Linked DNA regions of Homo sapiens. The protein of the gene in region 3 interacts with the protein of the main gene of each other region in a biochemical or structural test. Each region holds a gene or a part of one and is shown on either strand. Other genes may lie near its edges. The genes, in order: PDGFB, THBS1, COL6A1 and ITGAV.

Region 1 (7,700 bases), on a different chromosome or scaffold from region 3:
CCCACCCTTGGCACCAAGCCGGAGCCACACGTGGGTGCTTCTCCTGCCACACCCCAAGTCCCAGGTACCAACCCGCCTGCTGACTCGGCCCTGCCCTGGATGGGTGTGGCCACGCTCTCTCTGGGCTGCCATGGGCCTCTAGTTCTCCAGACGTCAAGAAGGAGGGATGCCTCCTGTCCTGCCCCTCCCAGATCTCTTAAAGTCTCCTCGGAGGGCCGGAGCGCGGGGCGAGGATTCCATTTACCTCCGGGGTCTCCGTGCAGCAGGCGTTGGAGATCATCAAAGGAGCGGATCGAGTGGTCACTCAGCATCTCATAAAGCTCCTCGGGAATGGGGTCCCCCTGCCGGGCAGACACCAAAAGGCTGAGTGAGCTGGGAGTGGGGGCTTTCCAGCATGGCTGTCTCCCCCACCACACGCTTTCTCGCTTTCTCCTGTGGAAAGCTCCAAGGTCACAGGGAGACGGACAGGCAGGATCCAGGCCTGATGATCAGGAGCACAAAGGCCTCGGGGCCTGGACCTGCCGAAGCCTCTGAGACCCAGCTCAGTCCCTGCACCCTCAACCCCCAACAGGAACCCCAGCTTGCTTTGAGTTGGACCTGCTTGTCTCTATGTCTGTCTCCCCCACCAAACTACATGTTCTGGGAATGCACCAAAATCTGATTTCTCCCTGAGTCTCACAACACACCTGACAGCTGAAGACAGCCAGCATCTCCCATGGCCAATCTAACCCCCATTTTACAGAGGGGAAAACAAACGTTCAAAGAGAGGCTCAATTATTGGCAAAAGCTGCATTCAAACCCATGCCTTTGGGATGACAGAGCCTGTACTCCCAGGCTCCTGGGTACAAGAGGTGCTTAATAAACGCGTGCAGAGTGCGATGGCCTCAGGAGGCCCCAGGTCCTAGCGGTATCTATGAAGTCTCTCACTCGAAAGAGGCGAAAAGGGAATCCTCGGACACGGCCGGGAAACCTGAAAGCTTACCCGTGCCCTGTGCCCAACCAAACCCTATTTTTAGAGCCCCTTTGGCCTGTTGCCAAACATACTCGAAACCTGATAACACTTCAACAGGCCTCATTCGGAGCTGGGCTTCCTCCAGGGAAACCGCAGGTCCCACAATGACACAAGAGCAGCCCCGTAGGAAGGTCACAGCCACGTCCCCCACAGTCCCAGGAGACCCAAGGGGCGGATGCCAGAGATCCCAAGAAAGAGGCGAGGGCAGATGGGAGACTGAGAATCACAATCCAGACCACCAGCCACTGAGAAGCAAAGAAAATTCCTAAGATGTCGCTGCACGTTCAAAGGCTGGAACCGGACTTCCACGTGTGCAAACACACACGTGCAGGCACAGGCACTCGGGCTGCACGGTCTGGACAGACAGTCCTGGAGAGGGCATCAATAGGCTTGGCACATTACTATAGAACCTTGGGTTAAACTATTTTCTGCCTCAGTTTCCCTGGATTAAGAAGGGAGGACTTCCCTTCTTGGTTCGCTCCACATTCCCGGAGCCGAAGGTCGGGGGGCTCAGAGGGGGTCGGTGCAGGCTACCTTCACAAAAGGGATGCTGCTTTCTCGCTGCCTGACGGCGGAGGGGGAGCGAGGGAGAGGAGAAGAGGTCGTCTCAGCCCTGTGGCCAGCCTCAGGGGGCTCTCCCCGAAAGCTCTGTTTCCTCCAGCTTATCATGAGGTCTAGCAACACCTCCAGGGGTTCATCCATGACCAACTCTGGCCACCCACATCGATCCAGGAGCCAGAAGACTCAGGGCGGGGGGTGGGGGTGACCACTTTTAAAGCTACATCATTCCCTGAAACCCCTGAGTCTCCATGTCTTTGTTTGAACATGGAGCTTACAACTCCGCCCAATGTCTAAGGGCTGCTGGGCAACTTGAGGAAAAAAAGGTGGCAGGGCTTGGCTGAGAACTAGGGTCTTTCCTTCAATATCCGGGCAGCCAGGGGCTGCACGTGCAAGACAGAGGAGGGTATGGGCCCCGCTGCCCCTCACTTTCGGCCCCATCTCCTCCGGGCTCTGCCTCCTCCCGCCCTCAAGCAAGTTCATTCTTTCCACCTCAGAAGAGAGACCACGCCTCCGGTGCTCTCCAAATGTTGACAAAGTACCCAACCCACAGAACAGAGGGCTTGGTCTCCAGTGAACACCAGCGAAAGCCGCTTCCCCTGAGAGTTCTGTCAAACCCAGAACTGGCAGGCCAGAGAGCTGAATCCCACGCCTTTGGACCAACTGCCGTGTGACCTCGGCTGGTCACTGCCCCTATGGTCCTGGCTCTCATCTGTGAATCGAGGGGCTTGAAGAACATTCGATTCAATTCTAATTCTGCCAGGAGGCGTTAGAAGGGGCAGAGAAAACGCCAAAGCCGGGTGCCTAGCCAGGCCTCCCTGGATCACTGGCAGAAGGAGAACAAGAAGCGTTTGTGGAGTAAAGATTCAATTAACCCCCCAGGGGAGGGGCCCAAAGGCCTAGTAGCAAATGGCATTTAGTGCTTGTGCCAAGATCTCCCTGCCCACTGGAGAGCCGGCTGCAGCTGCCAGCCACGGCAGAGGAGGCAGACCCCTGAACAGGCCGAGTGGACACCCCAGATCCAGGCCCACGACACATAGGAGATGCCCCTCCAAGGCTGAGTGTGAAAGAGCCCAGGATAGGGTCTGAGGAGGAGAGAGAGGCACATAGTAGGTCCTCGGTAAATACTGGTCAAATGCATGAAGGAGTCTACCATTTTCCAGGTTCTGTCCAGTATGATTCTTCTGCCTCCTCCACCAGGAGGGCCACCTGGGATATTCTTCCCCAACCCTAGGCAAATGAGCAACTAGAGTCCCTTTTAATCTGAGCAGGGAGACCGTCCCTGAAGATGCTTTTGGTAATGTGGCCACTAGATGCCCAGAACTACCCATAAGCCCCCGGATTTGGTAATAATACCACAACTAACATCTATGAATGCCAGCTACAAGCCACACGCTGAGAAAAACACCGTATAAACTACCAATCCTAAGAGGCTGGCAGTATTTGTATCCCCATCCTCCAGATGAGAACACTGAAGCTTAGAAAAAATTAAACAAGCAGCAACAGGTCCAGACAATTAGCAAGTGGCAGAGCTGGGTCGTTCCCAGGCTCCAGACTGCCCACCTGTTCCAGCCCACCATGGGGCGTCTCAGCCTCCCTCTCCTGTGTTCTAAGGCCACTGGCCCTCAGCATCACACAAGGTTCGTGTTGGCTCTTTACTCTGCAGCATGTCCCACGTCAGAGGCTCTCAACCAGGGCCCAGTGGGCCCCCAGGGGACAGTGGCAATGTATGAAGGCATCGCTGGTGGCCACAACTTGGGGTGTGCACTGCATCTTAAGTTGGGGGAGGCCGGGGATGCCGCTCACCACCCTTCAGGGCACAGGACGGCCTTCCCAAACATCAGGAGTGCAGAGGCTGAGAAACCCTGTAGCGGAGGAAAGAGCAAGGGCTCCAGATGCCAGGGCAACCTGGATTCTTGGAATCTTGTCACAATCTAAAACCTCGGCTTCTGCATCTTTTAAATGGGGCTAATAATACCTCGCCCGGGGTTACTGGGAGGCATAATTGCACAGAGCAGAGCTGCCAGCAGATAATGGGAGCTTAATGAGTTGTCACTGTCATCATCATTAATTCTTTCCGGATGGCTCCTTTGTGGGCAGCAGCGAGTGGCACACGTGCTCAGGGCCAGCAGCACAGGACATTTTTGAGGATGACAAGGAGTGGGTGGAGAGCTGCCTGCCCATGAAAGAGTGCGTGACTTTGCATTATCCCTTGTGCTGGGCCACAGGAAATGGTACCCTACCTCCACACTGGCAGAGCCTGGGCCGTGTGGGCTTACAAGGCCCTTCCGGGGCTGGGGGTGGGTGAGGGTGGGGGGACACTCAGCACGTGCTCAGCTCCAGGATGCAATGCTCTGGGGATGACGAGCATGAGCACCTGTTGGGAGTCACAGGCTCTTCTTGGTATGGGAAGGTGAGCCGCCCGGAGCCTGGTTTTCCTGGGCACAGGTTCCGCAGGCCTCCAGGTGGACAGCTCACTTCAGAGATGGGAAAGGAGGCCTGGCACCCTGAAGAAGCTGTCCCAAGATCTCAGGCCCGGGGTTTCTGGCAGAGTGAGGGCGTGGCGAGGAGGCAGCTGGGGCAAAGCCAGCCGTGGGAGCCAAGGTAAACAGCCTCCTCCGACCCCGCCCCCAGCGCCAGCTGCAGCAGGTAGGAAGGGCACGAGCGAGCGTGAGGCCAGGTGAGTGATCTGCTCCCAACCAGGCTGGCAGATCAAAGGGGCTTGAACCCCACCCTCCTCCTGGGCCCAGCACACACACACAGATACACACTCCCCGGCCCGCCTGCCATTCCCACCAAGGGACACACAGGCCCAAGCAACCAGGGGCGTTGTCTGTGGCTGGCAGAGGAAGAAGCTGATGAGGCCTCCCAGAGCCTGCCTGCCTGAGAGTCGCAGGCCTTATTTAGATCGAATGCCAAAGCCAACCAACCCCTTTGAAGAAGCCCTCTCGGGGCAAACCACAGAAGCCATTAGAACCAGTGTTTCCCACCTAGCATTCCCCTTCTTTATTGCTCTTGGGACCCTCCCGCTCAGCCTCTGCTCCTTCACGTGGGCCCAGAACCCTGGCCTCCCCACCTCTTGCAGGAGCAGAGGAAAATTAAAGCAGGAAGAGAGGAACCAGTCCAGCCATTTATAATACTGGCAACCACGGCAATCACTGCCCATCCCCATCCCAGCCAGGGGACGGGGCCAGGGGATTCTGCCATTCTTTGGGAACTCTGCACTAATCCAATCTTCTCTCTCTCTTTTTTTTTTTAGGTGGCAGAAACTTAGCCCCAGCTAAAGATACACAGAACCTTTGCAGTCTGATTTTCTTTCTGTTTCTTCTCCTCTGTCCTGTCTAATCCTGGTAGCCCAAGTCCCAAGACAGAGGAGAGACAGACATGCTTCTCTCTCAAGATGGGGGGCTTTGAAAGACTGATGCCTACCAGAGGGCTGAAAAGGGGGGCTGCCCTCGGAGCAGAGCAAAGCGAGGACTCAGTGGGGCCATGGAGCAACAGGGGGCCAGGTCCTGCCCTCCCCACCAACCCAGCACTAACTGTTCTTTGCACTAATAGTTACTGATTGTCCACAGGGCTCTGGGCACTGTTCTAAAAGTGGGGACCAGGAGGAAAGCTCTCTAATGGGGTTGACACTCCAGTAGAGAAAGCAGGTAATAAACAATGAAATAAACCAGAACATAGGAAGAGTTGTCACAGAAGAGGCTCCTCAATGTGGGGAGGGGAAGACAAGACGTGGAGAGGTACTTACGAGGCCCATGATAAACATCTCACCATTCCTGCTCAGTCAGTCTCTCTCTCTCTCTCTCTCAGATGCGCACACACACACACACACACACTCTCTCTCTCTCTCTCTTCCTGGCTCTTGCACCAGATCCTCCAAATTCTGTTTGACCTGCCCTTGCACACCTCCAGGGCTCTGGGATTCCAGCAGTTGGTCTCCTGCCCCCTAGGGCCATTAGCAAAGCCAGAGGAAGCTGGATGGCAAAGGGCAGTGGGGCCCTTCACTCTTTCCCGGAAGAAGTGTGCTGAGGCCAGACGCGTCACGTGACAGTGGGACTCGCCCTCCTGGAAGCCAGCTCAGCTGGTGGAGATGGCACCTCAGAGGCCTCGGCAGGCCCTCCACCCAGCCCTGCCTCACGGCTGCCTGCCGTCTGCTGAAAGATTAGTCCGAGCACGACCAGGACGTGGACAGCTCCAAGGCCACCTCCACCAGCAGGCCTGCCCTGACTCTCCCAGCACTGGCCATTACAGCTCCTTCCTGGACTGACCCCTGCGTGGTTCCATCCCCATGCAGGTCCCCTCCCCCAGGGCCAGCCTGAGGCTCACTCAGGCTTAGCAGCAAAGTGCTTCATAAACTGCAAAGTGCCACATACATCGCGCCTGTGGCCATGTGTTCAAGAATGCTGTGACTAAAGTGAGGAGAAAGGCAGTTTCTGTGCCACAGCCTCCACCCCAGATACACGAGCCCGTGGAGCTGTGGGAAAGAAGGAGGAGGTGCTGGACGAAGCTGGAAATGGTAAGGGGAGGCTGGGGAAACATCCAGCTGTCAGCGGCCTCCCCGGGGCACGCTGGGATCAGCCAAGAGAATGCAACAGCCAGGGGTGGGAGCCCCCTCCGCGGTTGCACACGCCAGGTCCCTCCAGTCTTGCAGGTTCAAATGAAGGCTTATGTGAAGGGGGAATCGCTCTGGACAGCTCAGTGCCCCTCAGAGTCACATCACCACCATTTTCCACCACGCGGAGGTGGTTGAAAAAAAGGAGTCACAGATGGGTAAGGTTTGAGGGGCGTCGGGCTGACGAGGCAAAAAAAAAAGTAGGTGCTGTGGTGCTGATGGGAGGTTCTCCCTCCCTCACAGGACGCCAGGAAGGAAATGGGGCCGCTACAGAGGTGGTGAGGTGCCAGGGCCCACGGAGGGCCCACCTGTTGCGCGGGGGCGAGCACCAGGCGCTGGGTGCACGGGGGCCCGTGCGTGCCTGTGTACGTGCGTGGGTGTGCGCGCACGTGTGCTCAGGCCGCGCGTGCAGGGGCCGTGCGTGCGTTTGTGTGCGGTGCGCGCGCGTGTGTCCCGCGTGTGCACGGGCGTGGCAGAGGCGGGCGCGCGACCTGGCCGCGGTAGTGCGTGCCCGTCGCTCTGCGCGCCCGCCCGCCGGAGCGCAGCATCGCCTCCGGCCAGGAGTGTGCATGCGTGGGGTGAGTGAGCGAGTCGGGGGCCCGGGCGGGGTGGGCTGCGGAGAGCAGCCACGGGGCGCCGCCGTTCCCAGGACGCCCTGGCACCGGGCCCAGCCCCCAGGTCCCACGGCGAGGCGAGGCGGCAGCTGGGGCCGGCCGGCCACCCCCTCCCCAACAGCTGGCCGCGGCCCGGGGGGCTGCGGGAGAGGCGGAGAGGGGGCGTCGGGAGGGGCCTGAAGGCGGCCCGGCCGAGCCCCGCGTCCTCCCTCCCGGGTGCGGGCCGCGGGGGGCGGCCGCGGAAGGGCGGGGCCCCCGGGCGGGCGGCCTGCGGCCCTCGAGGAGCCCCGAGAACAAAAGGAGACGGCGACGGCTCCTCCGTGGTCAAAACAACCTGCGCTGGCGGCAGCCCAAGGCCGGGCCGCGGCCTCCGAGCCCTCCGCCTTAACCCCTTCGCCGCCGCTGCCTCCTTCCTGCGCCTGGCTGGAGGCCGCAGGGGCCGACCCTCCCCGGGAGCCGGCGAGGTGCGGGCGAGGTGCGGACTCCCGGCCGCAGCCGGGCGGAGGTGGGACGGTACCCAGTCACGCCGCGCTCCCGGCTGCCCTCTCCTCCCCTCCACCGCGCGCGTCGTCCTGCCCCGCCCCCTTTCCCACCTGGATTCCGGGTAGACTTGCCAACTCACGGCTACGTGAGGCTGGGAGGGGTGGGGACGGCTCCGACCCCAGCGCTCCCTCAGATGTTTTTATACCCCATCTCCCGTGCAGCTAGGCTTTTGCAGGCGGCGCGCTCCGCACCCTGCATGCGGGGGAGAGAGGTGCTTCCTCCTGCAGGGCGCGGGCACAGGTACGGCAAGGCCTCAGGCACACAGCGCCCCGGGGGCTGGATTCCTTCAGAGCCCCTAGTCCTCCCCCTACCCGAGTGCCCGAAACCTACCTGCGTCTCTATCTTTCTCTCCCTCTCT
Region 2 (6,715 bases), on a different chromosome or scaffold from region 3:
AATGCTATTTAATACTTTTTGTCTTTTTGTCCCTCAGTGTGACTGTAAGTGAAAGTGAATCAGTATGATCGTACCTAATGAAACCCGTCTTTGGCCTGTGGCTGAGACGCCATCTGTAGGCGGTGAAATCTTTCCAGCCTATGTGACGAGGGTCATGCCACAGGGTGCGCACCTGAAGGAAAAGGAAAAGGAAAGGTTGAAACACAGCTCCTTCAGGTAAAGATTTCTATTTCATTCCATCAGAAACAATGCTTGAAAGGTACTGAGCTGATCTAAGTTAGAGGGCTGCAATGGGGAATTTTTCCAAGTCCTCTCATATTTGTTGTGTGCCACTGAGCACACATATAAAGCAGACAGAGAGGAGGGAAGGAGGTTTTTTTGTTTGAAAAGGCTGAAGGCACCTTAGGATTTGCAGGGCAATTCTTGGTCAAGCTCCCTTTTCAACACTATTATGTTTTTACAAAGCAGAGTTCAATGCTGCAGCTGGTGATGCTGGGAACTTTCTAAGACTCCCTGGTCAGAGTCTTGGTCAAAGCACAGCATCCCCAGTGCTAGTCAGGCACCCATAAGCTCTCTCTCTGTTCCAGGGCTTTGCTTCTTACCTGGCCAGGGGTGTTTCCTGTGTGCCACAGGGCGTTCCGCAGGTGCTCGCCAGGCCCTGTGGTGGAGTTTACAACTTTCACAGAAAGGCCCGAGTATCCCTGAGCCCTCGTGGGGTTGGTGTCCCAGTAGGACTGGGTGACTTGCTTCCACATCACAACATAAAAGCGGCTGCTGGACTGGTAGCCAAAGACAAATCCAGCATAGTCATCGTCCCTTTCGGTGTTGATGAAGAAGGTGCCACTGAAGTCCACAGCATTAAACTCATCATAACCTGGAAGAAGAGCCCAGAGCCAGGTTAAAACCTGCAGCCTTCAGAAGGTTCTCCATCATGTTCCTAGACATCCTCAGCACCCACAGGGATAGGTACAACTGCCAGGTTTTATATTTGTTTTTCCCCATGTATGCATCAGTCTCTTAGGATCTAAGAACTCGCTACTCACCTACAGCGAGTCCAGGATCACAGTTGACAGTCTGGACGAGTTCTTTACCCTGATGGCGTACAACCCAGTTAGGGTCATTTTGGGATGTCCCTTTGGGGTCCAGAGGAATCATCTGGAATCGGCGGAAATCGGTCTCACTGATGTCAACATTCTCAGGACAGATGTCATCGATGTCTGGCACACTGTCATGGTCAAAATCATCTTTGCAGGCATCACCTCGACCATCGCCTGAGGTCAAAAAAGCAAGAGTTCAGCAAAATTCTAAAGTGCTATTATTATTACTGGTGTCAGAAATGTCACTATCTTGTCTAAGTTGGCATTTGGTCCCTTCATCCTGTCAAATGCTTTGAGCCTTGGTTTCATTTCTTCAATCTACACAGCTGTGCCAGCAGTCCCTGTCTTAGAAAGTGGCTCCCATGACTCACCGTCAGAGTCCTTCTGGTCGGGATTGGGCACGAGTCTGCAGTTGTCCTTGTCATCAGGAATGCCATCGTTGTCATCATCGTGGTCACAGGCATCTCCCTTGCCATCTTTGTCATGGTCAGCCTGGTTGGCATTGGGCACATAGGGACAGTTGTCCAGATTGTTCTGGTGGCCATCTTCATCAATATCCTGATTGTTGTCACAGGTATCTCCAATGCGGTCTGAGTCAGAGTCCAGCTGAAAGAGAGATGTAAATGGAGGGTAAATTGCAGTATAAACCATTCATGTTAAAGATAACTTATGCCCCCACCACAGGGAAAATTCTCCATTGTTTGATACAGCCAGTGGGGTGTCATGTCTATTTACACACTCCTGCAGAAAGATAGCAATAGTAGCAATTACATTTTAAAAGTTTTTTTCCTTTATCTTTGTTTTCGTATAAAAATCTGAGAAGGGATAATTTAAAAATGTTTTACATATAAAACTTTCTAAATAAGGTCAAATAGAGTGATATTTAATTACTAAAGATGAAATGAAATGTTAACTGTTTACATCTTAATGTTAAATGAAATTTTCTGGATACTTTATAACAGAGAATTTCCTTAGAAGGTTTCAGTTGTAAAACTGTTGACACGTCGACTTCTCTGAAAAGTCCTGAAAAGATGGAAACAGACCACTGGTCCCTGTGTTGTATACTGTCTGGGTAATGTTTATGACAGGGATAAATTACTTTGGTTTTGGATGTATCCTTAGTTTGATGATTTTCTTATAGCTAGATTACATCATTAGCCATGAAAATGGTTATTTTGCTTATGCACATTTATTTTTCCATCTCTTAGTATTACATATGATTAATATTATTGTACAGTTGTCAGTCACAGATGTCTGCTTTGTATAATTTGTCTTAACAATGGTAGACGATGCTGAGCAAGTCCAGTAGCCCTTCTTACAGAAGGTAAGACTGAAGTTACCAGATCTTCATGCTAAAGATCTGTGAGACTCTGTGCAAGGAGCTCACATCAGGCAAATTATTTACATGAACGTATTCCAGTTGGCTATGAGAAGCCAGGGAGCCACAGTAATGAAAGTGTTTGAACTTTGTTAAGCTCATTTTTCAAAGGCCATGAAAGGGATATTCCAACAGTTTACTGAAAGACTCTGAAAGGAGTCCATCCACCTACCTGATCCGGATTGTGTTCCAAGGGGCAATTGTCACACTGATCTCCAACCCCATCCATATCAGTGTCTCTCTGGTCCACATTGTAGACGTACTGGCAGTTGTCCCGTTCATTGAGGATACCTGAAGAGAACAAGGGACAAATAAGAGCTGGGCTCTCCAGCCTTGGATGTTTCCACCAAAGTGCATACTAATAGCCAGGACTAGACAGAAGTACGTTTGGAAAGCTGTGCATGTCCCTGTCTCCCGCGGGCCCTCTGATCAGGCAGCACCTTACCGTCTCCATCAATGTCTGCAGCACAGGCGTCTCCTTCCCCATTGTTGTCTGTGTCTGCCTGATCTGGGTTGTGGTTGTAGGGACAGTTGTCACAGCGGTCTCCCACATCATCTCTGTCATAGTCATACTGAGCTGGGTTGTAATGGAATGGACAGTTGTCCTGCAAAGAGAAGAAATGGAGCACTTAACAATGTTGTCCTTGAAAACAGCTCAAGCCTCAAACCATGTGCATAATATGTCTAAAACTGTGAAAATCAGCAATACTTTCTACCTAGTGGATAGGCTAATTGATCACTCAGTGTAAAACGATCACTACAAAAGTTAAAAGGACATAGTTAAAAAAATGGATCCCTGTGGGTTAGAAGTTAGTGAGATGTAGAATATAATCCCATCATCTCAGTTCATAGTGTGCCCAAAGTCAATTTTACTGTAATTTCGATGTGACATTTGAAATGAATCTAGGGAACAAAGTGGCATTTGTTTATGCATTATAATTTCTCAAGTACAGAGAAAAACAGTTCTGATGAAAAACAAAACCCTCATTTAAAAATTCTCTTGGCAACATCTACATCCTTAAACTACTGGAACACAATGAATAATTTCTAATTATCCTGTGTATTGATTTGGTATATTTTTTGCTATAGCCATGTAATTTCCTTGAATCCCAAAGTGTTTCAGGCTGTTGCTGAACTGAAAAGATGAAAAAGGGATAGAAAACTGTTTTTACCCTGTCATCTGGAATTTTATCATTGTCATCGTCATCATCACAGGCATCACCAATTCCATCCTTGTCATAGTCTTCCTGCCCTGAGTTGGGAAGGTTGGGGCAATTATCCTAGGAAAGAGAAGATATATATCACTGCTTCAGTTGCCTTCCTCATGCTGAGCTCATGCACGAGGGAGTGTACCTGGAATTCCAAATAGAAAAAGAACAGAATTTGGCTCAGTAACAGCATATTTTTTTTATGGGAAGACAAGAAAATAAAACTTTTCTTGGGGGATATACATACAGAATTTGTGTAAATGCTCTAGGCTTTATAGATGTTGTGAACACAAGTCATGCTTTGCTGGTATTTGGATAGAGTACTGAACTTTTTTTTGGACAGAAGAGTTGACTATGGAACACAGTTGCCCAAAAAGAGCTAGCCCTGTTCATGTTTTTGGCACCAAGTGATTTAATTTTAATAGGAATTAGTGCCCCTCTCCCTTTGGGAGATTTAATCTTTCAGTTTCATGTCCAAACTTTAAGTATTTAAAATTCCTTAGCCTGTGTTTTGATAAGGTGATGGGCCCTCTTTCTGGAGGCACACAAAGGACCTGGCTCTACCTTTTTGCAGTGGTAAGTCGCATTGGCCACGCACACCAGGTTCTCATTGGGCCAGCCATCCAGGTCTGTGTCCTCCCCGCAGATGATGCCATTGCCAGCGTAGCCAGGCTTGCACTCGCAGCGGTACATGGGGTCGCTATAGTGGCCCAGGTAGTTGCACTTGGCGTTCTTGTTGCAGTCGTGGGTCCCATCCGTGCAGGGGTTACGGGGCTTGCACACCTGAGGGTACACCATGCTGCTGTTACACAGAGCTTTTGAGAATCCTCAGATATCATGGAAACAAGAATCCAGATCCCTGTCATCTCTGAGTAGACAGAGGCTCCATTTGGAAGAGTGTGGGTTACCTCTGTCCCTCCCCATTCTCCCTGAGGCTATAAGCAAACTTTGCTTTATGTTTATTTTTCTTGAATTTGCTCAGCACCTAGGCGTTTACAAGTCCATCTGCTCACAACTTATTCCAGAGCAGCATTTTTAAATATGGAAGACTGTTTTTCCCCTGCAGGATTTACCATGGATTTTCTAATCACGTTTCTAAAACTAGACCGTACATTCATCTCCTCGCCCTTTTTTTTTTGGTGAAGGGTATGAAATTACATTCCTCCCGCTCCCAGTTATTTTGGTCAAGGACAGCTCTCCTGTCCTCTGGTTTACTCGTCTAGTTGACTGTACCTGTTTGTTGGCCGTGGCATGTTCGACACCCTGGCCGAAGGGCTGTGAGCCGGTGAAGCGTGGGGGGCAGGGCAGGCAGTTGTAGCCGGGGTCCGTGTTCTCACACCGGTGCTCTCCATTGTGGTTGAAGCAGGCATCAGGCACTTCTTTGCACTATGGAGGAAATAAGAGCGTGCATCATGTTTAGAAGTCACTGCCATAAGGAAGCGACTGCACAGGTTAGCTGCTTTCCTAGATCCAGAAACTCGGAGCCCCATCAGTTCCTCACCTCATCAACATCTGTGCACTGGATGCCATTTCCACTGTAACCAGGGGGACAAGCACCACATTTCCAGCTGCCATCAGGGTAGCTAGTACACTTCACGCCGGCAAAGCAGGGATTGGACAGGCATCCATCTGAGACAAGGAGAGAGAGACAGTCACAGTAAATGGTTGGTCTAAGCTGCCATACTGCCATGCTGGGCACTTAACACAGTGTAAGATATTATAGGGTATAGGGAACCGATAACTTGTTGGGATTATGTTGTCCACCTGCATCTTAGAGCAATCAAATCGCTCAGGACTAACCAAGCTGGAATCTCCTCGAATGCTGACTGCAGCATTCAGTAAAAGAGCAAAGCTCCTGGGTCGTTTCATCCTGGGCTGCGTGGCTCACCAATTGGACAGTCCTGCTTGTTGCAGATCTGGTTTTCTGTTACATCACCAACGCAGTCCTTGCCTCCAAACTGGGGTGTGGGGTTGTTGCAGAGACGACTACGTTTCTGTACCCCTCCTCCACAGGTGACAGAACAGATGTCCCATGGTGACCAAGGACCCCAGCCTCCATTGACTGTAAGAAGATGAACCACAGGCAACAATTAAGATCAACTTTCAAATCCCTCCCTTGTCATAGACTCTCCTAAGCCCGTTCAAGAAACCTCTGCTTCTCTGACACATGGAAAGAATGCTGGGGAAGAGGGTGAGTTTGTTTTTCATTAAAAGAAGTTGCTGAGCCTGCAGGACTTTGCTTCTGTTTGTTTCTCTAGTAGGTAACCTTCCTGCTCTATGACCCACTGAACTGCAGGCTGCAGATGCCAGGCAACCAGCTGGGCAGAGCTGCTGCCCATGCTCACCCTTGCAGCGGACCTCACACTTACTGGGGCAGGCGTCTTTCTTGCAGGCTTTGGTCTCCCGCGCTTCGCCTTCACAGGGTTTCCCGTTCATCTGGGGGCTGGGAGAGTTGCAGAGCCGGATCCTTGTGATCACACCATCACCACATGTCACAGAACAAGATGACCACGGGGACCAGTGGCTCCAGCCACCATCCTGTTTAACTAAAGTACAGAGTTGATGGTCACAAATGGTTTTGGCTTAGAGACAGCCAAATAGAGGCTCCCATCAGGAGCACGCAGAAGTATTTCCAGGAAATGGTCAATGGCAACTAAACCCAGTGTACGGTAGAAATTGGCTCCTGGCCACATGCCCAAATGTCAACATGGAATGTTTTCTACCAGAGAACGGATAAGTTCGCTGTTTTTATGGGTTGCTGTTAATATCCTAACATTTACAGGGTGCTTACCATAAACCAAAACTCAGTGCTAACTGCTTTACATGCAGTATCTAAATAAAATGCTCAAGATAAACTTATCAAGAACTATTATTATCTCCAAGTTGCAAATGAGGAAAGAGCCTCAGAGAGGGTAAGTTGTGTTCAAGGGTGCACAGCTAAGCAGTGGGATTGGGATCCAGAGATCCTAGAACCCGTGTTCTTAATATACATGCTGTGGAGCTGCCCTTGGTGACGACAACAAGGACAGGTC
Region 3 (3,925 bases):
CTTGTCTAAGGGGCAGGATTTGGTTCCCATTAGAGAAGGCACAGCTTTGCCAGGCTGGCAAATTGGCAAACTCAAATCTAGGGCCTGGAGGGTAATCTGGGAACTTGAAGATGAGATTTGGAAACCGTCTGCTGGGTTCTAGGAGCTCGTCTGGGAATGTTTGGGGTGGGGTCAGCATTCGCCTTTGTCTTCCCCAACACTTCAGCTTCAACAAAGAAACTCCAGAGAAAACACCAGCAACGGCAGACTCAGCTGTCAGACGAAAAAGCTCCTTCTCCCGCCTCGTGCTCCCGCCCTCCCGCTGCCCACTCGCCCTCCCACCCGCTCACCACCCTCCTCCCGCCCCCGCTCACCACCCTCCCGCCCACTCGCCACCCTCAGTGCCACCCAGCCCATTCTCAGTTCTGAGAGCCATTCTGGGCTGCGGCTCGCAGGCTAGGAGTGACGCGGTGGGGTCCCATCTGTGCCGAGCGAGCGGCAGGTGCGGGGGACAGAATGGCGGAGGCCTGAAGGCCCTCGGGCTGCAGGGAAGGCTCTGGGCGGGAGCGCCACGGCCACTGTCCCCACGGTGGGCACTGTCCCCGCTGCTCCTCTGCCTGCCTCCAGCCTCCACCAGCTCCTCCCCTCTGAGGCCGCACGGGTGGCCGACATGCTCGGACCAGGACTTGCTTCCAGGAGAGGTTTCCAATTCAGCGCTTGGCCAACCGTGAAGGCCCTGGTCCTCCAGGGGCCGCAAGTCACTCACCTTTTCTCCTTTCAGTCCAAAGGCACCGGGGTCTCCCTTGGGGCCAGGGGGTCCTTGAATGCCCTGGAGAAAAGAGGGCAGCATGACACCACCGGCAGAGGCCACCGCGGCCTCTGGCAGCAGCCCCAGACCGCCCAGACAGAAGTCAAAACGGTCCACACGAGGTGCTGCTGACAGCGCTAGTTTTAAAGTATCAGTGAGAGGAAGTGACTTACGTCAAACCCGGGCGAGCCCTTGCAGCCTGGCAGGCCTGGGTACCCCATCTCCCCCTGGAAAGAGGAAGAAAACTAGAAAATCTGACGGCCAAGTGGGTAAACTGAGGCCAATCAACTGTCAGACTTGGTGCCCTCCATGCCCTCCACACCCTCCCTGGAAAGCCCTGCCTAGCAGACACCCCCCTGGGGTCACCTTCACACCGTCCACCCCACTCCTCCCTGTCCCTCCTGCCGGGATCACCTCACCCCATCCCTCCCCGTCCCTCCCCGTCCTTCCCCTGGTCACCTTCACACTGTCCACCCCATCCCTCCCCGGGTCACCTTCACGCCGTCCACTCCGTCCCTCCCCATCTCGCCCCATTCCTCCTCGTCCCTCCCCGTCCATCCTATCTCCCCCCAGTCACCTTCACGCCGTCCACCCCGTCGATGCCACGCTTGCCCTTCTCTCCCTGTGAGGCGGGAAAACGAAGGCAGGAGTCAGATGCAGGTCAGACATGCTGCCGTGGGGGCAGAACTCCCCCCTCCCAGCAGCCCACGCTCACCTTGTAGCCCTTGGGTCCCCTGGAGCCCTGCGGAGACAGGAAGCGGGTGTGAGGGGGTATTTGGGGTGGGGAGGGCAGGGCAAGCCTGGCTTAGGCCCACGCGAGGCAGGGGCTTGGGTGCCCCCAACCCGAGGGGACAACATCACTGCTGAGAATCATGGGGACTGACAGTGATGGGGAGGGGCCGCTCTGCAGAGGGTAACCGCCCGGGGGACCCCCGGCTCCGCAGAGGGTAACCGCCCGGGGGACCCCCGGCTCCGCAGAGGGTAACCGCCCGGGGGACCCCTGCTCTGGGGTGGGGTGAAAGTGACACAGGCGCCTTTGCTGGGTGCCTGGGTGGCTGTCCTTGTCCTTCCAGATGGAGGGGACGGCGAGGGGCGGTGGAGCGGGTCTGCAGGACACGTGGTCTCCTGTCAGGGACACTGTCCTCATCCCCGGGGACACCCTCGTCCAGGATGGCACATCTGCGCCTGGAGAGACCAGCTCCGAGGTCGAGCCTCACTCACCTTCTCCCCACGGCTCCCTTTTTCTCCCTACACACCCAGCGGAAGAAGAGGAAGAGGAAGGCTTGTTAGTGCTGTGCAAGGCTGAGGGCACCACCGGGCTCGGGCCAGGAAAGGGGGGGCACGTACCTTCATTCCCTGGTACCCAACAGGTCCGAGGTCCCCGGGTCTTCCCTGGAACACAGGAGGAGATGGTGAGACACCCCCGGAGGAGCAGGGGCAGGGGCCAGTCCCACCCAGCCCCACACCCCTCCCTCCAGCCCAGGCCTGGTCAGGCCGAGAGAGGGGCCCTGCTGCACGGGGCCCATGGTGCCGAGGCCCTCCAAGGTGGAGCTGGGGGAGGGAAGTCTATGGATAGGATTTGGGCCAAGGAGCCACGGCAGGGGCCCCGGACGGTGCCGGCCTGAGCACCCTGGGCCACCTCCCCACCCAGCCCCTCCCTGGCAGGGGGGCTTACGGGCTGCCTGGGGGGCTGTGTGGAAGGATGGCTGGGCTGTGGCCCCTCCAGGTCTGCTCCCACCCACAAGGAACAGGCAGTGTGACTTTGGCACTCAGAACCCAGCCACTCTTCCGGAAGTTTCCGAGGCCTAGTCGTTCCCCGCCTCCAGCTTCTTAGGGCCCCCACCCCACAGTCAGGCACTCACAGGATCTCCGGCTTCTCCCTTCTCTCCTGGGAGCCCCGGCTTGCCTCGTTCTCCCTGGAACACAAAACAGGTCAAGGTTGGGGCAGCCCCGTTTCTTTCTAAAAAGCTGGCTCACGAAACAGGTTTTTAAAAAGACGCTTCATCCAGCCTTCAGGGATCAAGGGCTTTAAAGCACCTTCCCCATCACATCTGGTCAGCCTGGGTCTGGGAGCTCCAACCCGCACGCCAGCTCCCCCCACTCCCTGCCTTCGTTCCTGTCTGCTCGGCTTTGCTGACCCCCAGGCACAGGTGGGAGGGACGTGCAGCACAGAAGCCCCCCAGGGTCACAGCTCGACCCCCAGGAAATGGCCATGGGACTCGGGCCCACAGCTGCTGGGTTTGATGGTTTTTAGGAGAAGCCAGAAATCTGAGGTCCATGAGCAGCCTCATGGCAAGTTTTAATTATCAGCAGCTAATTCTAACGTTTAAGGTCATCCTATGTGAGCCACACAGAAGCAGGGGACCCACATTCTCACCCTCCTACCTCCAGAAAGGTCCTTCTGAACAGAGTGCGGCTGAGGGCAGGGCGGACAGAGACACCCTCAGAAGCCCCCAGCGCCCCCGGGACAGTCCACACCCTGCACGGCCGGAGCCTGCCTGCTGGACCCCGCCGTCCCTTCCATCTGGACCCCGACATCCCCTCCATCTGGACCCCGCCGTCCCCTCCATCTGGAGCCCCGACGTCCCCTCCATCTGGACCCCGCCGTCCCCTCCATCTGGACCACGCCGTCCCCTCCATCTGGACTCCCGCCGTCCCCTCCATCTGGACCCCGCCGTCCCCTCCATCTGGACCCCGCCGTCCCCTCCATCTGGACCCCGCCGTCCCCTCCATCTGGACCCCGCCGTCCCCTCCATCTGGACCCCGCCGTCCCCTCCATCTGGACCCCCGCCGTCCCCTCCATCTGGAGCCCCGACGTCCCCTCCATCTGGACCCCGCCGTCCCCTCCATCTGGACCACGCCGTCCCCTCCATCTGGACTCCCGCCGTCCCCTCCATCTGGAGCCCCGACGTCCCCTCCATCTGGACCCCGCCGTCCCCTCCATCTGGACCCCGCCGTCCCCTCCATCTGGACCCCGCCGTCCCCTCCATCTGGACTCCCGCCGTCCCCTCCATCTGGAGCCCCGACGTCCCCTCCATCTGGACCCCGCCGTCCCCTCCATCTGGACCCCGCCGTCCCCTCCATCTGGACCCCGCCATCCCCTCCATCTGGACCCCGCCGTCCCCTCCATCTGGACCC
Region 4 (7,700 bases), on a different chromosome or scaffold from region 3:
TTCTATTTTTCTGTGTTTCTCCTACTTCACCACCTTAATATCAGTCAGTGATTAGTCAACAGGCAGAAGCTCCTAGAAATTCTTCCTTTTTAAGGTTTTCTTGATTCCATCTCTGCTTTCTACTCCTTATTTCAGTGTAGTTATGACAAGCATAGTCAGTGGCACTCAGGTCCTCCCCCATCCCTCTGCCCATCATTTGGCTCTTAAACGTGCAGAACATCTTGTCTGTTTCTATTCATTTTATCTTTCTGTAACATCCTTTTTCATCCTGGTATTCTGTTGCAAAAATTTTCATAATAAAGCTTCCATTGCCAGCAAGAAAGTCCAAACCGCTTAACATGGATTAAGGTCACTTGCAATCTGTCCCAACCTGTGTGTATTTTTAAAACTTCATGTACCATTTCTACTCTTACCATTTTAACCCTTTTCACAACACTTTACAAAATGATGCCAGCTCATTTTTTATAAACTTCAGAGTAGCTCTGATTATATTGGCTGATTTTTCTCATCATAAATAATATACATGTATATTAGGGGACATAAAACTAGGCTATAATTTTGTTATTTAGAAAGCAAATCCTATATTACTTCTGATTAAGGACATATGATGTTTCATAGAGCATTATGAAAGACAAGGGAAAATATGTGGAAATTGTAGTTACTGCTTCTGTTTTACAGTAGTTGTTGACTGGCATTTTTGTTTTTCTTTTGATTCAAAAAAGCATTTTTTAAAAAATGAAAAGTAAATCTGAAACTGGAATTGTAGCTTTGAAATAACATTCAGTACTATTTCATACACATTTATTTCTATATACATGTATGATAGTTTTTCAGAAGTTCCTTTTGGTGAAGGCTCATTGGTCAACTCAGAGTCAGCTAAATATATTAAACATGCTTTATCTTAGAAAGGTCAGTGCTGAAAGCAGACAAACAAGTTAGTTTATTTGGAGGGTTTGAAAAATGGACTTGTCATTGTTTGGCAGGTTGCCCCTCCTTGGTTGTCAAGGTCACATTCCGTGAATCAACTGCCCTTCAAGTACAGTTTGGATAGGGAGTGCATCCAAAGGCCATCCTCCTGATTGGTTCCTCTGAGCCTCTTGTCTGTCTCCCTCTCACTGCCTCCTCTGATACCTCTCCCTCTGTATCGCTCTCTCTTTTTTCTTTTTCTGTCTCTTGTCCTTCCTCTCTTTTTCCTTTCCTCTATCTCTTTTCTTCCTTTCCATCCATCTTTCTGTCCTCTCTCCCAAACTCAATCCTTTATATTTTAGCACTTCTTGGCATGGATGTAAACCTTAATTTTGAAGTCCCAGAGAGTTATTTAATGGCAGTGTTTCCAGTCATTAAAAAAAAAAATGTTGAGGATGGGGATTCTGATGATGTTCTTGGACATACTTTTTGGAGGGAAATGGAGTCTATCAGGAGAGAGTTGCGGGCATAGGAAATTAAGTCACTCAGCTTCAGATTTACACTGCTAATCAGTGAAAACTCTTGTCAACCTTACCTCACCCTGTGTATTCTCCCCACCTCGCCACCATTGATAAGAAATGTTTAAGCTGGCTTTTCTACCCTTCTTTCTCTTTTTCTTCTTCATTTGAGTTAATCACTTGACCATTAATGGCCCTTTGAAAACACTGAGGAAAGAAAAGCCCTTTTAAAGACAGAATTTAAGTTTTACATTTTCTACTCTTCTAGGGAATAACTTATTAATGGCATCAATTGTTTTCAGGACGAAGATGATAATTAAATCCCATCATCTTGTATTTTCGTGGTGTTTCAGATTTTCTAAGTTTGCATTTATTTATTATCACCTTCAGAAAGTTTCTTTTTAAAGTAATTACAGTGGGCATTGTTATTGCCATTCGATAGAAGGGAACAGAGATTCAAAGTTACTGCTTCAATTGATTTGCAGTGTTTGTAAATTTTAATTCCAAACTGTTTCCATTAGATAGTGCTGCTTAGATCACAAACATTTTTTTTCTGGTCTGTCAGTTCTCTTACCCTAATTAAGCTGTTGTACACTTTCATTAGTCATTCTTAGATGAAATTCAAGTAACAATTATTTTTATGGAGTGTTTTATTAACTTTGTTTTTTGTAGTATGTGTTGCTTTTTTTTTTTTTTTGAGATGGAGTCTTGCTCTGTTGCCCAGGCTAGAGTGCAGTGGCACAATCTTGGCTTGCTGCAACCTTCGCCTCCTGGATTCAAGCAATTTCTGGCTAACTTTTGTATTTTTAGTAGAGATGGGGTTTCACCATGTTGGCCAGGCTGGTTTTGAACCCCTGACCTTAAGTGATCCTCCTGCCTTGGCCTCCCAAAGTGCTAGGATTACAGGCATGAGCCACCGTGCCTGGCCTGTGTTGCTTTTTATTCCTTAATTTTTTTATATAGCATCTTTTATCACCTTGTACCCAGTTTTCTATGCAAGTATTTCTTTTTCACTACACAGCTTCCTCGTAAGACTTTAACATATGTCTAAGGTCATTTTACTTTCTCTATCTCTTCATTGTTCTCTTTAAAAAACTTAAATATCTTAATGATAACTTTAATATCGAGATGGCATTTTGGATGAAAAACTTCATCAGCTTTTTTCCCTCACAAATTTAGCATGTAGATATTGACACATTCCTTTTATATTATTCTGCCATTTCTGTAGCATTTCACCAGTATGCAAGTCTGCACATGAAGGTATGCTTAGGAAAACTTAATGAACATCCATTTGTACACCTGATTACCATCATTTCATGCCTATAATGTGCAGATAGCCTGATGAAAAGCAACAGGCTTGTTCCTGGTATTATTCAAGGAACTCATGCTATGTGCTGCCAATAGAGTGGTGTTTTCATTCAGAGAATGCTCCTACTGGGCTCTTTTTCTCTGTCTTTGTTGAAGGCCTTCTCCTAATAACTTCCGAGCTCTCTCTGTCTTATAGTGCCAAGTAAAGAAAGTATCTGAAACCCAAAATTAAGTAGAGATGTTACACAAGGAAATTGTTTTAAGGGTAATTTAAATAATTGGATGTTTAATAGAGGATGCTTTCTGCATTCTTGAGGGGTTCAGACGTAGTGGAAATGACTTATTTATATATGGCTACTTTAAGATTGAGACATAGCTATTGAATTTACTTTGTTACTCCACTGTCCATTTAAACTTTTCTTGAGTTCTTATAATGTGGCAGGTGCAAAAGATGAATTAGAGTACCCTACATTCAAAGAAGCAATTTATCATAAGGTAGGCAGAATAGTTTTGACCAAAAAGTTATAAAATATATTGTAAGACAGGGGTCCCCAACCCTCGGGCCATGGACCAGTACCAGTCCATAGCCTGTTAGGGACCATGCTGCACATCAGGAAGTGAGCAGCAGGAGAGTGAGCATTACCACCTGAGCTCTGCCTCCTGTCAGATCAGTGGTGGCATTAGATTCTCATAGGAGCAAACCCTATTGTGTGAACCCTGCTGTGAAGTGTGCATGCAAGGGATCTAGGTTACATGCTTCTTATGAGAACCTAATACCTGGTGATCCGAGTTGGACAGTTTCATCCCGAAAGCATCCCCCTCTATGTCCAGGGAAGGAAAGGTTGGGGACCACTGCTGTGAGCTACTATTTGAAGACAACCCAGAAGTGATTTTTGCTTGTAGGTTTCCAGGCAAAGCTTGAGAACCAGTTCTCCTATCCTGATGTAGAACCTGGTATGATCTACAACACTAAGAACGTGTACATACCTGTGCTTGTATTACTCTCATTAGGACTACTGTGGCAATGTCCCAAGCAAGCACTATTCAAGATATTGACCCTCAAAAGCAAACTTACCTGAACTGTTCTTTTGTTCTAGTATGCACTCAAAAATCATTTAATTCTGATGAAAAGGGGTAGTTGTGTGATTTTGGGGTCAAATTTTAGACCCGTAGAAAAAAAATTGTATATGTAATAAATTTACATATTATAATTTATACACACACACACACACACACACACACACACACACAGAGTTTCACTGTGTTAACCAACTCTGCTCTAGAAAAAGAACCGATGGGGTTTTGATGACGAGCTGCTCTCTTAGTTATGGGAGGTGGGGACTCTCTTACTCATAGCATTTTTTTTTTTTTTTTTTTGAGACAGAGTTTTCCTCTGTTGCCCAGGCTGGACTGCAGTGGCGCAATCTTGGCTCACTGCAATCTCCACCTCCCAGGTTCAAGTGATTCTCCTGCCTCAGCCTCCCGAGTAGCTGGGATTACAGGCTCATGCCACCACGCCTGGCTAATTTTTATATTTTTAGTAGAGATGGGGTTTTGCCATGTTGGTCTCAAACTCCTGACCTCAAGTGATCTGTCTGCCTCAGCCGCCCAAAGTGTTGGGATTGCAGGCATGAGCCACTGTGCCCAACCTCTTTTTTTCTTATGAAAGACTTTTGCTGAATGAAAACTAAGTTCATTTTCTACCCAGAATCATTTTGCCGTGATGGGAGAGAGCCAACATTGGTGTTTTACTGATGCCAGATATGACTGCATGGAGCTCTATTAAATAGGGCGTGGTTTGGTTGGGAGTTACGTCTTTATTTTGAATTTGTGGATTTTTAAGATAAGTGTCAGAAAGCAGGATTCTTTGTAACCCTGCAATTCGTACAGCCAGCTTTTGTCTACTGTAGATGAGATTTGGCAGCTACTACCCAGAATAAGAAATTGATTTTAAAAGTTCAAGTGAATGCATTCCATATTTAAGATGTACATTCGTTCTAATTTCACAAAAAGGTGAAAAGCAATTGTAAATGTTTCCTTTGCCAGAATAATTTAAGTGACTTAGTATTTAATGAAACAAAATGATTATGGTGATAGCATTTTAGGACTGTTTTTGTCTGCCTGTATCCTGCTTTATTTCCTCCTATATTTCAATCAGTTTCTTGAGATTAAAGACAAAAATCTTTTTTACTTTATCTTCTTTCTCTTCTTGACTCCTAAATGTTGTTGTCCCTGAGAACTCACTCATTGCCCCTCCTCTTTCGACGCTTCCCCTGGCTGAATAACCCCAACTGTGTTCTGATACAGCATACTGTCTCAGGCAGGGCTTCAGACTACAACTGGATGACTCACAGATATCTCAAACAAACATATTAATAATTGAATTCATGGTTTTTCTGTAAATACTAATTTTATTTTATTTCTTGAGACAGGGACTCATTGTTTCACCCAGGCTGTTTGCTTACTTTGTAGCACTTGTAATCACAGCTCACTGCAGCCTCAACCTCCTGGGCTCAAGCCATCCTCCTGTCTCAGGACCCCAGCTCCACCCCCAAAGTTGGGACCACAGGCGCATGCCACCACACCCAGTGAATTGTTTTATTCTTTGTAGAGATGGGGGTCTTACTATGTTGCCTAGGCTAGTCTTGAACTCCTGTAAGTACTTAATCTGCCTTCTGCTTCTCTGCTCTCTAGGCTTTTCTCCCATCAATGCACTCAAGAAGGAAATCTAGGTGGCATTCTTGAATGTCTTTTCTCTCATATTCAGGCCTCCAGCGATTGCTGTTGTACTCCAGATGTTTTTTTCCATCTGTCACCTATCTTTCCACCCACCCTCTTACTGCAGATCACACTCACCTGCTCCCTGAGCTGCGGCCAGTCCTTTGCTTTCCTTGTTCCATTTTTTTCTCCCTCTCCCTTAATGCTTTCCCCATAGGGCATAACATTTAGTTTTCTTTAGTAGATGATTTCATTCTTCTTAAAAAACTCAGTGGCTTCAAATGAACCTTGGGATAAAATACAAAGTTTAACCATGGCCAAAAGGCCCTATTTGACTTAGTTATTGCCAGGCTCCTTGACCTTATCTTGTGCCACTCCCGGCTTGTCCCCTCCTTCAGCCATACCTTTCTTTGTAGCTCCTGGAGATTCAATTCTTTCTTGCCAGGGTCTTTCTACCTCTGCCTCACATATTCCCTCCATCTCTTCATTCCACTTCCCTCATCCCCACCCCCCACTCCCCTCCATCCTCAATACACAAATGCTCCTAGGCACCCTCCTTCTGATCCTGTACATCTTAATGTTGTGGTGAGTTCCTTAGAAATAACTTCTCTGTCTACTTTATCTAAAAGAGAACTTTCTTCCCCATTCTTTAAAGATGATTTCCTTAGAGAGACTTTCCTTTACCTAGAGGAAATCTTTCCCCTCTCATCCTTAGAGATAACTGCTCTGTCTAAAGAAGGTCTCCTCTCCCTATTCCCAAAAATCTCTCTCAGCTAATTGTTTGCTTACTTGGTAGGACTTGTAATAGTAATTTATTTATTGGCTAGTTTCTTGCCTCTAAGGGAATGTAAGCTAAATTCCTCCATTAAGAGCAGGAATCAGCCAAGCACAGTGGCTCACGCCTGTAATCCCAGCACTTTGGGAGGCCAAGGCAGGCAGATCACCTGAGGTCAGGAGTTAGAGACCAGCCTGACCAATATGGTGAAACCCTGTCTCTACTAAAAATATAAAAATTAGCCAGGCGTGGTGGTGGGCGGCTGTAATCACAGTTACTCAGGAGACTGAGGCAGGAGAATCGCTTGAACTGGGGAGGTGGAGGATACAGTGAGCCAAGATCATGCCATTGCATTCTAGCCTGGGTGGCAAGAGCAAGACTCTGTCTCAAAAAAAAAAAAAAAGGCAGAAACCAAGGTTGTTTTAGTCATCTGGTATCTCTAGCACTTAGGACCTTGCTTTATGTAGAGGAAGCACTCACTTCATATCTTTTATGAATGAATAGAAAACAACAAAAGAAAACATCTCTTTAAAATTAAAAATTTTACTCCTGATTATTGTGTCTTTGGTTTATTTTACCTTAATGACAAAGAAATTGAATAGTGGTCCTAATCTTTGACCAAGAATTGATTAGATTAATCTTGTGATAAGAAATTTTTTATTAAATAGTCAACTATTAAAAAAAATTAAGCCTAGGCAATGTGGCGAGACCCCACCCCTACAGAAAATTTAAAAAAAAAATTAGCTTAGCATGGTGGCATATGCCTGTAGTTCTACCTGCTCAGGAGGCTGAGGTAGGAGGATCGCTTGAGCCAGGAGTTGGAGGTTGCAGTGAGTTATGATTGTACCACTGCACTCCAGCCTGGGTGACAAAGCAAAACTGTGTCTCTTAAAAAAAAAAAATAGAATAAAATAAAAATTACAGCAATATTTCTAATGCAAGATAATTTTTCTAAATGGGAAAATCATATTTATAATTATACTTTGGAATAATTTACTTAGAATATTTTTTTTTTTGCTCAACATTCAGAATATAGAAAATGCATAGTAATTCTCTCACACACGCACATGCACACACACACACACCAGAACACCAAAACAAAACTTTCCTGCCTCTAGGCAGCATACATTTTTAAGAGCTTTACTGAGATATGTGACATACAATAAACTGTACATATTTAAAGTGTATGATTGACCTGCATAAATTCCTAAATGAATGTAACCCTGAACTTGCCTTATAAAGTTATCAGGAAAAATAAACTATATCAAATAATGTATGCATGCAAGAGACTACCAAATGAATAATGAAGATTATGCCCTCAGTGAATAGCAAATGGTTTTAAAAAATATTTATAGATAATATCAAGAGAATGATTGCTCCTCATAAATCAGAAGATATTGCTTACACTTTGTTTCATTTAAACTTTGGTCTGCCGCTTTTGTATTTTAGCCGGATGTTTCTTCTCGTGGGAGCTC

The links.
Region 1: the proteins of COL6A1 (region 3) and PDGFB form a complex in vitro, tested with the Homo sapiens proteins (one study listed by BioGRID).
Region 2: the proteins of COL6A1 (region 3) and THBS1 form a complex in vitro, tested with the Homo sapiens proteins (one study listed by BioGRID).
Region 4: the proteins of COL6A1 (region 3) and ITGAV form a complex in vitro, tested with the Homo sapiens proteins (one study listed by BioGRID).

What each region holds. Positions count from the first base shown.
Region 1 is NC_000022.11:39,235,534-39,243,233, forward strand, and holds part of PDGFB (platelet-derived growth factor subunit B isoform 1 preproprotein), read right to left. Parts: exon of another isoform or gene 7,393-7,700; intron 5,595-7,392; exon of another isoform or gene 5,480-5,594; intron 5,377-5,479; exon of another isoform or gene 5,340-5,376; coding exon of another isoform or gene 5,322-5,339; intron 342-5,321; coding exon 245-341; intron 1-244. UniProt on the Homo sapiens protein: Growth factor that plays an essential role in the regulation of embryonic development, cell proliferation, cell migration, survival and chemotaxis. Potent mitogen for cells of mesenchymal origin.
Region 2 is NC_000015.10:39,587,556-39,594,270, reverse strand, and holds part of THBS1 (thrombospondin-1 precursor), read right to left. Parts: intron 6,230-6,715; coding exon 6,053-6,229; intron 5,746-6,052; coding exon 5,572-5,745; intron 5,313-5,571; coding exon 5,185-5,312; intron 5,070-5,184; coding exon 4,917-5,069; intron 4,467-4,916; coding exon 4,248-4,466; intron 3,756-4,247; coding exon 3,648-3,755; intron 3,081-3,647; coding exon 2,921-3,080; intron 2,767-2,920; coding exon 2,648-2,766; intron 1,704-2,647; coding exon 1,469-1,703; intron 1,272-1,468; coding exon 1,044-1,271; intron 875-1,043; coding exon 603-874; intron 173-602; coding exon 75-172; intron 1-74. UniProt on the Homo sapiens protein: Adhesive glycoprotein that mediates cell-to-cell and cell-to-matrix interactions.
Region 3 is NC_000021.9:45,987,862-45,991,786, reverse strand, and holds part of COL6A1 (collagen alpha-1(VI) chain precursor), read right to left. Parts: intron 2,704-3,925; coding exon 2,650-2,703; intron 2,180-2,649; coding exon 2,135-2,179; intron 2,036-2,134; coding exon 2,009-2,035; intron 1,530-2,008; coding exon 1,503-1,529; intron 1,410-1,502; coding exon 1,365-1,409; intron 1,015-1,364; coding exon 961-1,014; intron 809-960; coding exon 746-808; intron 1-745. UniProt on the Homo sapiens protein: Collagen VI acts as a cell-binding protein.
Region 4 is NC_000002.12:186,594,347-186,602,046, forward strand, and holds part of ITGAV (integrin alpha-V isoform 1 preproprotein), read left to right. Parts: intron 1-5,858; exon of another isoform or gene 5,859-5,988; coding exon of another isoform or gene 5,989-6,035; intron 6,036-7,674; coding exon 7,675-7,700.